Regions from separate parts of the Homo sapiens genome. Here region 2 is linked to region 1. The links come from fine-mapping of genetic effects on gene expression. A gene starts in region 1. The other region holds a variant in brackets. All regions are shown on one strand. Distances are from middle to middle. Region 1 holds the start of MILR1 (mast cell immunoglobulin like receptor 1). Region 2 has its middle 26 kb from the start of MILR1.

Region 1 (5,375 bases):
AACAAGTGAGACCTCGTCTCTAATTTTTAAAAAACAAAACAGAACAAAAAAAAAAAAAAACATAGCTGGGACCAATGGATGGCTTGGGTGGAAGACAGATTTAGACTCTTCAAAAATGCTTTTAAAAATGCAGTAAACTCTCCTCCCACTCTTTGATCTGGACAATTAACATTTTCTCAGTCTTATATAAGCTCAACTTTTTTTTTTTTTTGAGACAGAGTCTCACTCTGTTGCCCAGGCTGGAGCGCAGTGGCACCATCTTGACTCACCACAGCCTCCACCTTCCAGGCTCAACTGATCCTCCTGCCTCAGCCTCCTGAGTAGCTGAACTATAGGCACACACCACCATGCCCAGCTAATTTTTGTAGTTTTGGTAGAGACAGGGTTTCACCATGTTGTCCAGGCTCGTCTTGAACTCCTGACCTCAAGTGACTGCCTGCTTCAGCCTCCCAAAGTGCCGGGATTACAGGTGTGAGTCACTGTGCCCCGCCATATAAACTCAACTTTAAGACAAGACCTAAACTACCTTTCCAACCAAATAGCCATCCCTAAGTTTTTTTTATCTAGGAATGCTAGAGCTTTTGTGGCCAGTAAACATGAAAAAGATGCTCAACTTCACAAGTAATGAGGCAACTGCAAATTAAAACAACACTGAGATATCATTTTTCACTCATCAGATTGGTACAAAGTTTAAAAATGATTGGCCAGGCATGGTGGCTCATGCCTGTAATCCCAGCAATTTGGGAGGCTGAGGCAGGCAGATCTCTTGAGTCCAGGAGTTCGAGACCAGCCTGGGCAAATGGTGAAACCCTGTCTCTACTAAAAATACAAAAATTAGCTGGGCATGATGGTGCGTACCTGTATGGCACTACTCAGGAGGCTGAGGTGGGAGGATCAATTGAGCTTGGAAGGTCGAGGCTGCGGAAAGCTAAGATCGCACCACTGCACTCCAGCCTGGGCGACAGAGCAGAGACTCTGTCTCAAAGAAAGAAAGAAAAAAAAAAACCCTAAATAAAATTTAAAAGTAAAAGTGATTATATCCACCACTGGGGAGTGGGTGGGGAAACTCACCCACCGTTGGTGACTGATAGGATACGATCAGCCTTGTTGGGAGGGCAACTTAGCAGGGTCTGTAACAATTTAAATGTGTATGCCCTATGACCTTGCAATTTCAATTCTAGAATTTCATTCTACAGAGATGCTTTCAAGCTCTCATGCATCCACAAAGGACGTTGTGTACAAGGATGTTTATTGTAGCATTGTTTATATTGCCCCCAAAAAGCAGGGCAATAAATAAGGATGGTTAAACGAATCATGGCTGAGTCTTAAAATACCATGCAGCTGTTGAAAAAGAGGAGCTAAGGCTGGTGTGGTAGCTCATGCCTGTAACCCCAGCACTTTGGGAGGCAGAGGCAGGAGGATCACGAGGTCAAGAGTTCAAGAACAGCCTGGCCAACATGATGACACCCCGTCTCTACCAAAAAACAATACAAAAATTACCCAGGCATGGTGGCACGTGCCTGTAATCCCAGCTACTCGGGAGGCTGAGGCAGGAGGATCCCTTGAACCCAGGAGGCGGAGGTTGCAGTGAGCCGAGATTGTGCCACTGTACTCCAGCCTGGGCAACAAGAGTGAAACTCTGTCTCAAAAACAAACAAACAAAAAAAGATAACGAATATAAAGTGACTGTTGATAACGGCTGCTTCTGGATAGGAAGGGGAGAAGAATTGGAGGAGGATTGTAACAGAACTTTTACATTTTATACAGTAACAACCACCACCTTGGCTATCACTTACGGATGGTTTACCATATGCCTGGCACTGTGACGAGGAGCAGGGATTGTCTCATTTGATCTGCACACTAGCCTACCAGGTAGGTGCTTTTATTAGCCCACTTCACAGATGAAATAAATTACAGTGTCTCACGCCTGTAATCCCAGCACTTTGGGAGGCCAAGGTGGGCGGATCACGAGGTCAGGAGATCGAGACCATCCTGGCTAACGATGTGAAACCCCGTCTCTACAAAAAATACAAAACATTAGCCAGGCTTGGTGGCACACGCCTGTAGTCCCAGCTACTCGGGAGGCTGAGGCAGGAGAATCACTTGAACCTGGGAGGCAGAGGTTGCAGTGAGCCGAGATTGCACCACTGACTCCAGCCTGGGCGACAGACTGAGACTCCATCTCAAAAAAAAAAAGAAAGAAAGAAAGAAAGAAAGAAATTAAGGTCAAACTGGGTATGTCATGAGCTCAGGCTGCTGGCTAGTAACTAGTAGAACCAGAGGTTAGACCACTTCCCAATGTATATTTCTAGTGTTGCTTGAATTATTTCACAATAATTCTGTGGGTTTTTTTATTTTGTTTTATTTTTTTAAGAAACGAGGTATCACTATGTTGTTCAGGCTGGTCTCAAACTCCTGAGCTCAAGCAATCCTACCCCATTAGCCTTCCAAAGTGCTGCGATTACAGGCCGGAGGCACCACACCCAGCCTGTGTGTTGGCTTTCTAGTTAAAACACAACAACCATAAAACAACAATAACAAGGAAAGTTAGAAAACTTTCATTGTGAAAACAAATTTCATTATTTTTCTCACTGAGTCTCAGAAAAAAATGCTGCAATCCCCTCCCTAAAATCATTTTATTTTAAATGATAGATAATTGAAAAGACTGTTCTTTGGTTGTTCATAAAAGCTCAGAAACACTTTTGAATGGACGCTTATGTTGCAATCAGACTGTCTCACCACTTCAGTGAAAATGGTTTCAATAAGAAAGAAGTAAATGAAACTTACCATTTGTTTTCATTGCCTCACAATCCAATACAGCTTTTCTACCTGAAACAGAAAAGGAACACGATAAAGCTCACTTTCCACATGACACGTTGGCTTGGAGGTTCGAGCCTCAGAATGATAAGGGGGGCTTACAAGTGACAGAAGAAAATATGCTCCAGAAGAGGAGCCTGTTCAAATGGCTCCACATTCTCCCAGTTGAAGTCCAAGACGGGGTCAGAAGGCATAGTAGAACCACAGTGGTGAGTAACTCGGAGAACTTCCTCTTTTTCTTAGCCAAGTTAAGGAAATCAGAGGGTTTGGATGAGGTTTGCATAATACTGGTTTGTTCGACCAATCTGTCTTCCTCTGTGAGTTCCTGTAAGAAGAGAGATATTTGGTAGATTGCCACTCCCCCGCCCCCCCCACCCCCCCACACCCCCACATCGTCCCATGCTGGCTGGGAAAGAGAAGAGGTAAATCTGACTGTTACATTGTCTATGTAAACCCATCTGATCTCCTTGCTCTGGACTCAGTCTATGCCAAAAGGAGTTTGGTGGAAGTTTGATTTAGTCTTTGGAAGCAAACCGACTGTCTTAAGCAGATACATACAAATATTGTATCAAAAATGCCTGCTTTTTTTTTTTGAGACTGGCCTCACTCTGTCACCCAGGTTGGAGTGGAGTGCTGTGATCATAGCTCATTGCAGCCTCAAACTCCTGGGCTCAAGTGCTCGTCCCACCTCAGGCTCCTGAGTAGCTGGGACCACAGGTGTGCACCATCAGGACTGGCTAATTATTTTTATTTGTAAAGACAGGGGTCTAGTTGCCCAGGCTGGTGTTAAACTCCTGAGCTCAAGTGATCCTCCCGCCTCAGCCTCCCAAAGTGCTGGGATTACAGGTGTGAGCTACTGTGCCTGGCCAAAAATGCCTGCTTTTGTTAAACGTTGATTCCTAGACCCCACTCCAGACTTACTGGGTTTCAAGTCCAGGACGCTGATTTTTTTTTTTTTAAACAAGGGCCCTGAGCAATTCTTACGCACAGTGAAGGCTGAGAAATATCTGTACAAGGTGCTGCTGCCTCAGTGATTTCTGAATCAAGGGAGCCTTGGGGACTTGATATTACGGCAAGCCCTCCAGTGCCAGGAGATCTGAAGTAGGAGTTACCTTAGATCAGCCTTTGAAATAGAACGTGCAGGCTGGGTGCGGTGGCTCATGCCTGTAATCCTAGCACTTCGGAAGGCTGAGGCAGGCGGATCACCCGAGGTCAGGAGTTTGACACCAGCCTGGCCAACACAGCGAAATCCCATCACTAGTAAAAATACAAAAAACTTAACTGGGTGTGGTGATGCGTGCCTATAATTCCAGCTACTTGAGGGGCTGAGGCAGAAGAATCGTTTGAACCCGGGAGGTGGAGGTTGCAGTGAGCCAAGATTGCACCACTGCACTCCAGCCTGGGTGATAGAGCAAAACTCTGTCTCAAAAAAAAAAAAAAAAAGTCAGTTGAAATAGAATGTGCAGAGCCACTTCTTGATGGAGTGGAGATCACCAAAAGGATAGAAAGGTATGACTATAGGGCTAGGTGGGCAAGACAGCTGGTTGACACTTGCAAGAATTGACAGGTCCACCAAGAGAGGAAGCAAGGAGTTGAATGGCTGGGGCAGCCTTGAGCTGGGACATTCATCTCTGTACCTTAGGTCCCAAGATGTAACCAAATCCTTCCTTATTGACTCAGCGTCACCTAGCTAGCATCCTCTAGCTAGGAGGTTTGATACTGAATCTTGCTCTGTCTCCCAAGCTAGAGCACAGTGGCACCATCTTGGCTCACTGCAATCTCCACTTACCAGAATCAAACTATCTTTCCACCTCAGCCTCTCTAGTAGCTGGGACCACAGGCACAAACCACCATACACTACTAGGTTTTTAACTTTTTTATAGAGATGAAGTCTCACTATATTGCCCAGGCTGGTTTTGAACTCCTGGGCTCAAGCGATTCTCCTGCGTGTGGCCTCCAAAAGTGCTAGGATTACAAGCATGAACCACCATGCCCCACCCTTACTACAACAACTTTACAGCACTTTATAAAAGTTTGGATGGGTGAACTGTCAGATACATGTGCAAAATTCCATCAACTTTTTCTTTTCTTCACGTCTGCAATGTTTTTCATCAGCATCCTGTCACTTTTTGGCTACCACTGCTGGCCAGCTGGAAAAGAACAGACAACCATAGAATCATTCCCCGCACCCACATTTTCTTTCTCTCTCTTTTTTTTTTTTTTTTTTTGAGATGGAGTCTCGCTCTGTTGCCCAGGCTGGAGTGCAGTGGCGCTATCTCGGCTCACTGAAACCTCCACCTCCTGGGTTCAAGGGATTCTCCTGCCTCACCCTCCCAAGTAACTGGGATTACAGGTACGTGCCACCACACCTGGCTAAATTGTGTATTTTTAGTAGAGACGGGATTTCACCCCATTGGCCAGGCTGGTCTCGAACTCCTGACCTCAGGTGATCTGCCTGCCTCGGCCTCCCGAAGTTGTGGGATTACAGGCGTGAGCCACTACCCCCGGCTCCACATTTTCATATAGACCCATGGAAATGGTTTCTCTATCAGATCCAG
Region 2 (5,375 bases), 26 kb after region 1:
TTTCTTAAATTGAACACCTGTTAATCTTCTAAATATCACCTTTTGTCAGAACTCAGAGTTATGATTGGCCTTGACCATACCAATGCTCTCTGATTAAGCTTCTCTCTACCCTGAATACTAGAGAAACTAATAGTTAGGCAGGAATGTCATCACCCTTATTTCTCCTAAAGAAATTACAGATGATGGATCCTCATCGCTCTACAACACTTAGGATGAAAAGTCTCCCTGTAAAAGGGAGGGGGAGTGTGTCAGAGGCACTGGAACAAGAATGACTCCATCTTGAGTAGGAGTTGGGTAAAGTGAGGCTGAGACCTGCTGGGCTGCATTCCTAGGAGGTTAGGCATTATCTAGAATCTAATGGGGCTTACTTAGAATCTAATGGCTCCAAAGCAGTTAAGATGAACAATTATCAAATTAAAGAAACGTCCTGGCCAACATGGTGAAACCCTGAGTCTACTAAAAAAATACAAAAATTAGCCAGGCGTAGTGGCACATACCTGTAGTTCCAGCTACTCAGGAGGCTGAGGCAGGAGAATTGCTTGAACCCAGGAAGTGGAGGCTGCAGTGAGCCGAGATCGAGCCACTGTACTCCAGCCTGGGTGACACAGCGAGACTCCAGTCTCAAAAAAAAAAAAAAAAAGAAAAAGTTAAAGCAGTTTATGATATTAAAGCATTTAGCAAATGTTTCAGAGGCATTCGAACCAGAGCAACTCCCTCTTGAATAGGGACTGGGTAAAATGAGGCTGAGACCTGCTGGGCTGCACTCCCAGAGAGACATTCTTAGTCACAGGACAGAAGATCAGCACAAGATACAGGTCACAAAGACCCAGCTGATAAAAAAGGATGTAGTAAGAAGCTGCCAAAACCCACCAAAACCAAGATGGTGAGGAAAGCTACCTCTGGCTGTCCTCACTGCTCATTATATGCTCATTATAATGCATTAGCATGCTAAAAGACACTCCCACCAGTGCCATGAGAGTTTACAAATGCCATGGCAATGTCTGGAAGTTAACCTATAGGGTCTATAAGGAAGAGAAATCCTCAGTTCCAGGAATTCCTTGCCCCTTTCCCAGAAAGCTCATGAGTAATCCATCCCTTGTTTAGCATATAATTAAGAAATTTCCAAAAATAGCCAACCAGCAGCCCTTGGGGCTGCACTGCCTATGGAGTAGCCATTGTTTTGTTTCTTTACTTTTCTAATAAAAACTTGCTTTCTCTTTACTCTGTGGACTCACCCTGGATTACCCCTTGTGTGAGATCCAAGAACCCTTTCTTGAGGTCTAGATTGAGACCCCTTTCCAATAACAAATCTATATTTTACTCAAACCAAGGAAAAGGGTGTGAATAACTGCAGTTAAGACTGTAACGGCTCAGTGGGTTCACCTTGCCCACTGCCTAGACAGACCGATTTATTAAGACAGGAGAATTGCAATAGAGAAAGGGTAATTCACACACGGCCGGCTCTGCGGGAGACCAGAGTTTTATTATTACTCAAATCAGTCTCCCCAAGCATTCAGGGAGCACAGTTTTTAAGGGTGGGTAGGGGGAAGCCAGGAAGCCAGGAGTGCTGATTGGTCAGGAATGAAATCCACAGGGAGTAGAAGTTGTCTTCTTGCACTGAGTTCCTGGGTGGTGGCCACAAGATCAGATGAGTCAGTTTATTGACCTGGGTGGTGCCAGCTGATCCATCAGGAGCAGGGTCTGCAAAATACCTCAAGCCCTGATCTTAGGAGCAGTTTAGGGAGGGTCAGAATCTTGCAGCCTCCAGCTGCATGACTCTTAAACCATAATTTCTAATCTTGTGGCTAATGTTAGTCCTAAAAAGGCAATCTAGTCCCCAGGCAAGAAGGAGGTCTGCTTTGGGAAAGGGCTGTTATTGTCTTTGTTTGTTTGTTTGTTTGTTGTTTTTGAGATGGAGTCTTCGCTCTGTTGCCCAGGCTGGAGTGCAGTGGCGGGATCTCAGCTCACTGCAACCTCCACCTCCCAGGTTCAAGCAATTGTCCTGTGTCAGCCTCCCGAGTAGCTGGGACTACAGGTGCCCGCCACCACACCCAGCTAATTTTTGTATTTTTAGTAGAGACAGGGTTTCACCATATTGGTCAGGCTGGTCTCGAACTCCTAACCTCAGGTGATCCACCAGCCTCAGCCTCCCAAAGTGCTGGGATTACAGGCGTAAGCTACCTCACCCAGCCACCACTGCACCCGACTTATCTTTGTTTTAAACTATAAACCAAGTTTCTCCCAAAGTTAGTTCAGCCTGCCTAGGAAAGGACACGGACAGATTGGAGGTTAGAAGCAAATGGAGTCAATTAAGTTAGATCTTTTTCACGGTCTCAGTCATAGTTTTGCAAAGGCAGTTTCAAGACGGCCAGGAAAATCTTACACATGGAGAGTTCTTTAAAGACGTAAGTTAAGGCCAGGTGCAGTGGCTCACGCCTGTAATCCCAGCACTTTGGGAGGCTGAGGTGGGCAGATCACCTGAGGTCAGGAGTTCGAGACCAGCCTGGCCCACATGGCAAAACCCCATCCCTAATTTTGTAAAAATACAAAAATTAGCCAGACATGGTGGTGCACACCTGTAATCCCAGCTACTCGGGAGGCTGAGGCAGGAGAATAGCTTGAACCCGGGAGGTGGAGTTTGCAGTGAGCC[G/A]AGATCATGCCATTGCACTCCAGCCTGGGCGACAGAACAAGACTCTGTCTCAGAAAAAAAAAAAAAAAAAAAAAAAAAAGACCTCAGTTAATTACTGGCTTTAGAGTGGAGCCTTTTAAGGAACAGGGCCAGGAAAGTATGCAGTTTCTAGGGACTAATAAGCAGGCTTGGATCCCCAAATAAAGGGAATCAGGCTATCCCTTATAGGAGTCTTATCTCTCAGTGGGGGTGGGTGGGTATGTTTCCATACCTTCTAGGTGGTCAAGAGCATGCTTCTCTGATCCAAACATGCAAAGAACTGAGTACTCCCCTATAACTGCCATTAGCCATCCCTTGAAGTATATTTCCTACCTAGTTATTACACATTAAGGCTAAAAGCTCTCTCATAATGTAATCTCTCATACCCTAAATGTAAAAAACATCAGGTAACACAATGCAAAACAGAGCAGAGCCTGACTTTTAACCAAATCTCTTATTACCACTCTAGCCAGGACAAATAGCTGATATTCCTGGCTTTTGGACTTGACCAAAGGTAACCTTCCAGGTGAAACGAATAAGACTTAACTAGGATTATGACTTAACCATGGATGTGCATTTTTTTGTTTTTTTTTTTTGTTTGTTTGTTTTGTTTTTTTTTGAGATGGAGTCTTGGTCTGTTGCCCAGGCGAGAGTGCAGTGGCACGCACAATCTCAGCTCACTGCAACCTCTGTCTCCTAGGCTCAAGCTATCCTCTTACGTCAGCCCCCCTAGTAGCTGGGATTACAGGCATGCGCAACCACGCCCAGCGAATTTTTGTATTTTTAGTAGAGATGGGGTTTCTTCATGTTGGCCAGGCTGGTCTCAAACTTCTGACCTCAGGGGATCCACCCGCCTCGGCCTCTTTTTAAAGTGCTGGGATTACAGGTGTGAGCCACTGTGTCCGGCATGTGTGGTATTTTCAAAGAGTGCAGTGGCACGCACGATCTCAGCTCACTGCAACCTCTGTCTCCCAGGCTCAAGCTATCCTCTTACGTCAGCCCCCCAGTAGCTGGGATTACAGGCACGTGCCACCATGCCCAGCTAATTTTTGTATTTTTAGTAGAGACAGGGTTTTCGTCATGTTGGCCAGGCTGGTCTCAAACTTCTGACCTTAGGGATCCACCTGCCTCGGCCTCCTTTTAAAGTGCTGGGATTACAGGCATGAGCCACTGTGCCTGGTGTGTGTGGTATTTTCAAAGAGGTGGTAAGCAGTTGTTACAAGATCTAGAATCGCCAAATGTAGCTCAGAGAAAGGAAAATTCAAGATGGGAAGTCAGAAGTTGTTCATGGTAGGGAAGATAATTAATAACTGGCAAAAGTCACACAGACAGCAAACCAGAAAGCACTTATTCCCTAAGCCGGGAATTGAACCGAGGCCACCACTGTGAAAAAAAAGATAAGGCCTTAGCCACTTAGCTAGGGTGCCGGGCAATTTCTAGTACTCTTCCCAGAAGGAGCCTAAAGCAGTCAATTTCGAGCTTGCAAAGGCTTTTAGCTGCTCAAGTTAATTTTTAGAGCTAAATATGATATGAACCTCCAAAATTCCCACCCTTCAGATGGCAGAAGCCAAGAGAAAGTACCCTGACATGGTCACAGGGTTAAAGGATCAAGCTCCCGCCTCACCTCCCCGAGTAGCTGGGATTACGGGTGCTTGCCACCATGCCCGGCTGATTTTTTTTTTTTTTTTTAATTTTAGTAGAGATGAGGTCTTGCTATATTTCCCAGGCTGGTCTTGAACTCCTGAGCTCAAGCGATCCTCCCACATCAGCCTCCCAAAATGCTGGGATTACAGGGGTACACCACCATGCCCAGCTGAAATTACCCTTTTAAACCAAAGCCAATAAGGATCTGGGTAGGCCCTTAGCTGCCAGCAGAAGTGACCTATCCTAAGAGATGATTTGTCAAGATTTTGTTAGTGGAGAGAAGACGATTCCAGAAAATCTGGGTGTTTACCACAGGCTGAGCACAAGGAAGGAAGGAAGGCTTTGGGTTTCCTTGTAGGGACAGGGGACAAGTAAGGGCTCTGGTGACTCTGTCTTGCTGTCTTGTATCCGGAATGGCCTGGGCTGCCGCCTGGGAGAATGCTGCACTCCCTAGGTCCCAAAGTGATGCCAGTGGACCTCCAGACCCCCTTCAGGGAAGGGGGTGCTGAGGATTCTGGGAAGACTACATCAGCTGACCTGAGTGAACTTGTTTCTTGTTTGTTTGTTTTGCTTGTTTGCTTGTTTGTTTGAGACAGGGTCTTGCTCTGTAGCCCAGGCTGGAGTGCAGTGGTGTGATCTTGGCTCACTGTAACCTCCATCTCCCAGGCTGAGGTGATCCTCCCACCTCAGCCTCCTGAGTAGATGAGCCTACAGGTGCGCACCACCACACCTGGCTAATTTTTTGTATTTATTGTAGAGTCAAGGTGTCACTGTATTGCTCAGGCTGGTCTTGAATTCCTGGGCTCACGTGATCCTTCCACACTAGCCTCCCAAAGTGCTGGGATTACAGGAGTGAGCCACTGCGCCTGGCCTCAACTTTTTAAATTTAATTTCAAGTGACTCAAAAGAAAAACAAGCGAAAATAAAAATAAAGTGTTAAGGCATAAACAGTTAATGGGCAGTCAGTTTCCTCCCTAGAGCTTTTGAAATTACAGACACTTGACAATGACGCCATCTAGTGGAAGGTTAGCAGGTCAGACGAAACCCATCTATTTCTCCTGAT

What was found. PIP is the estimated chance that this variant, and not a neighbour inherited with it, causes the effect.
Region 2: its variant is fine-mapped to the expression of MILR1 in esophagus muscle (GTEx, PIP 0.99).

What each region holds. Positions count from the first base shown.
Region 1 is chr17:64,446,768-64,452,142 of GRCh38, reverse strand. MILR1 (mast cell immunoglobulin like receptor 1) reads right to left here and starts at 3,028. Exons shown (of 10, transcript NM_001085423.2): 1 at 2,920-3,028; 2 at 2,788-2,829. The coding sequence starts at 2,974. RefSeq lists a silencer at 3,116-3,165.
Region 2 is chr17:64,420,318-64,425,692 of GRCh38, reverse strand. No RefSeq gene overlaps it. Among named protein-coding and RNA genes, the nearest start is that of MILR1, 26 kb to the left of the region's middle. The variant G/A (reference allele first, on the strand shown) is at 2,651.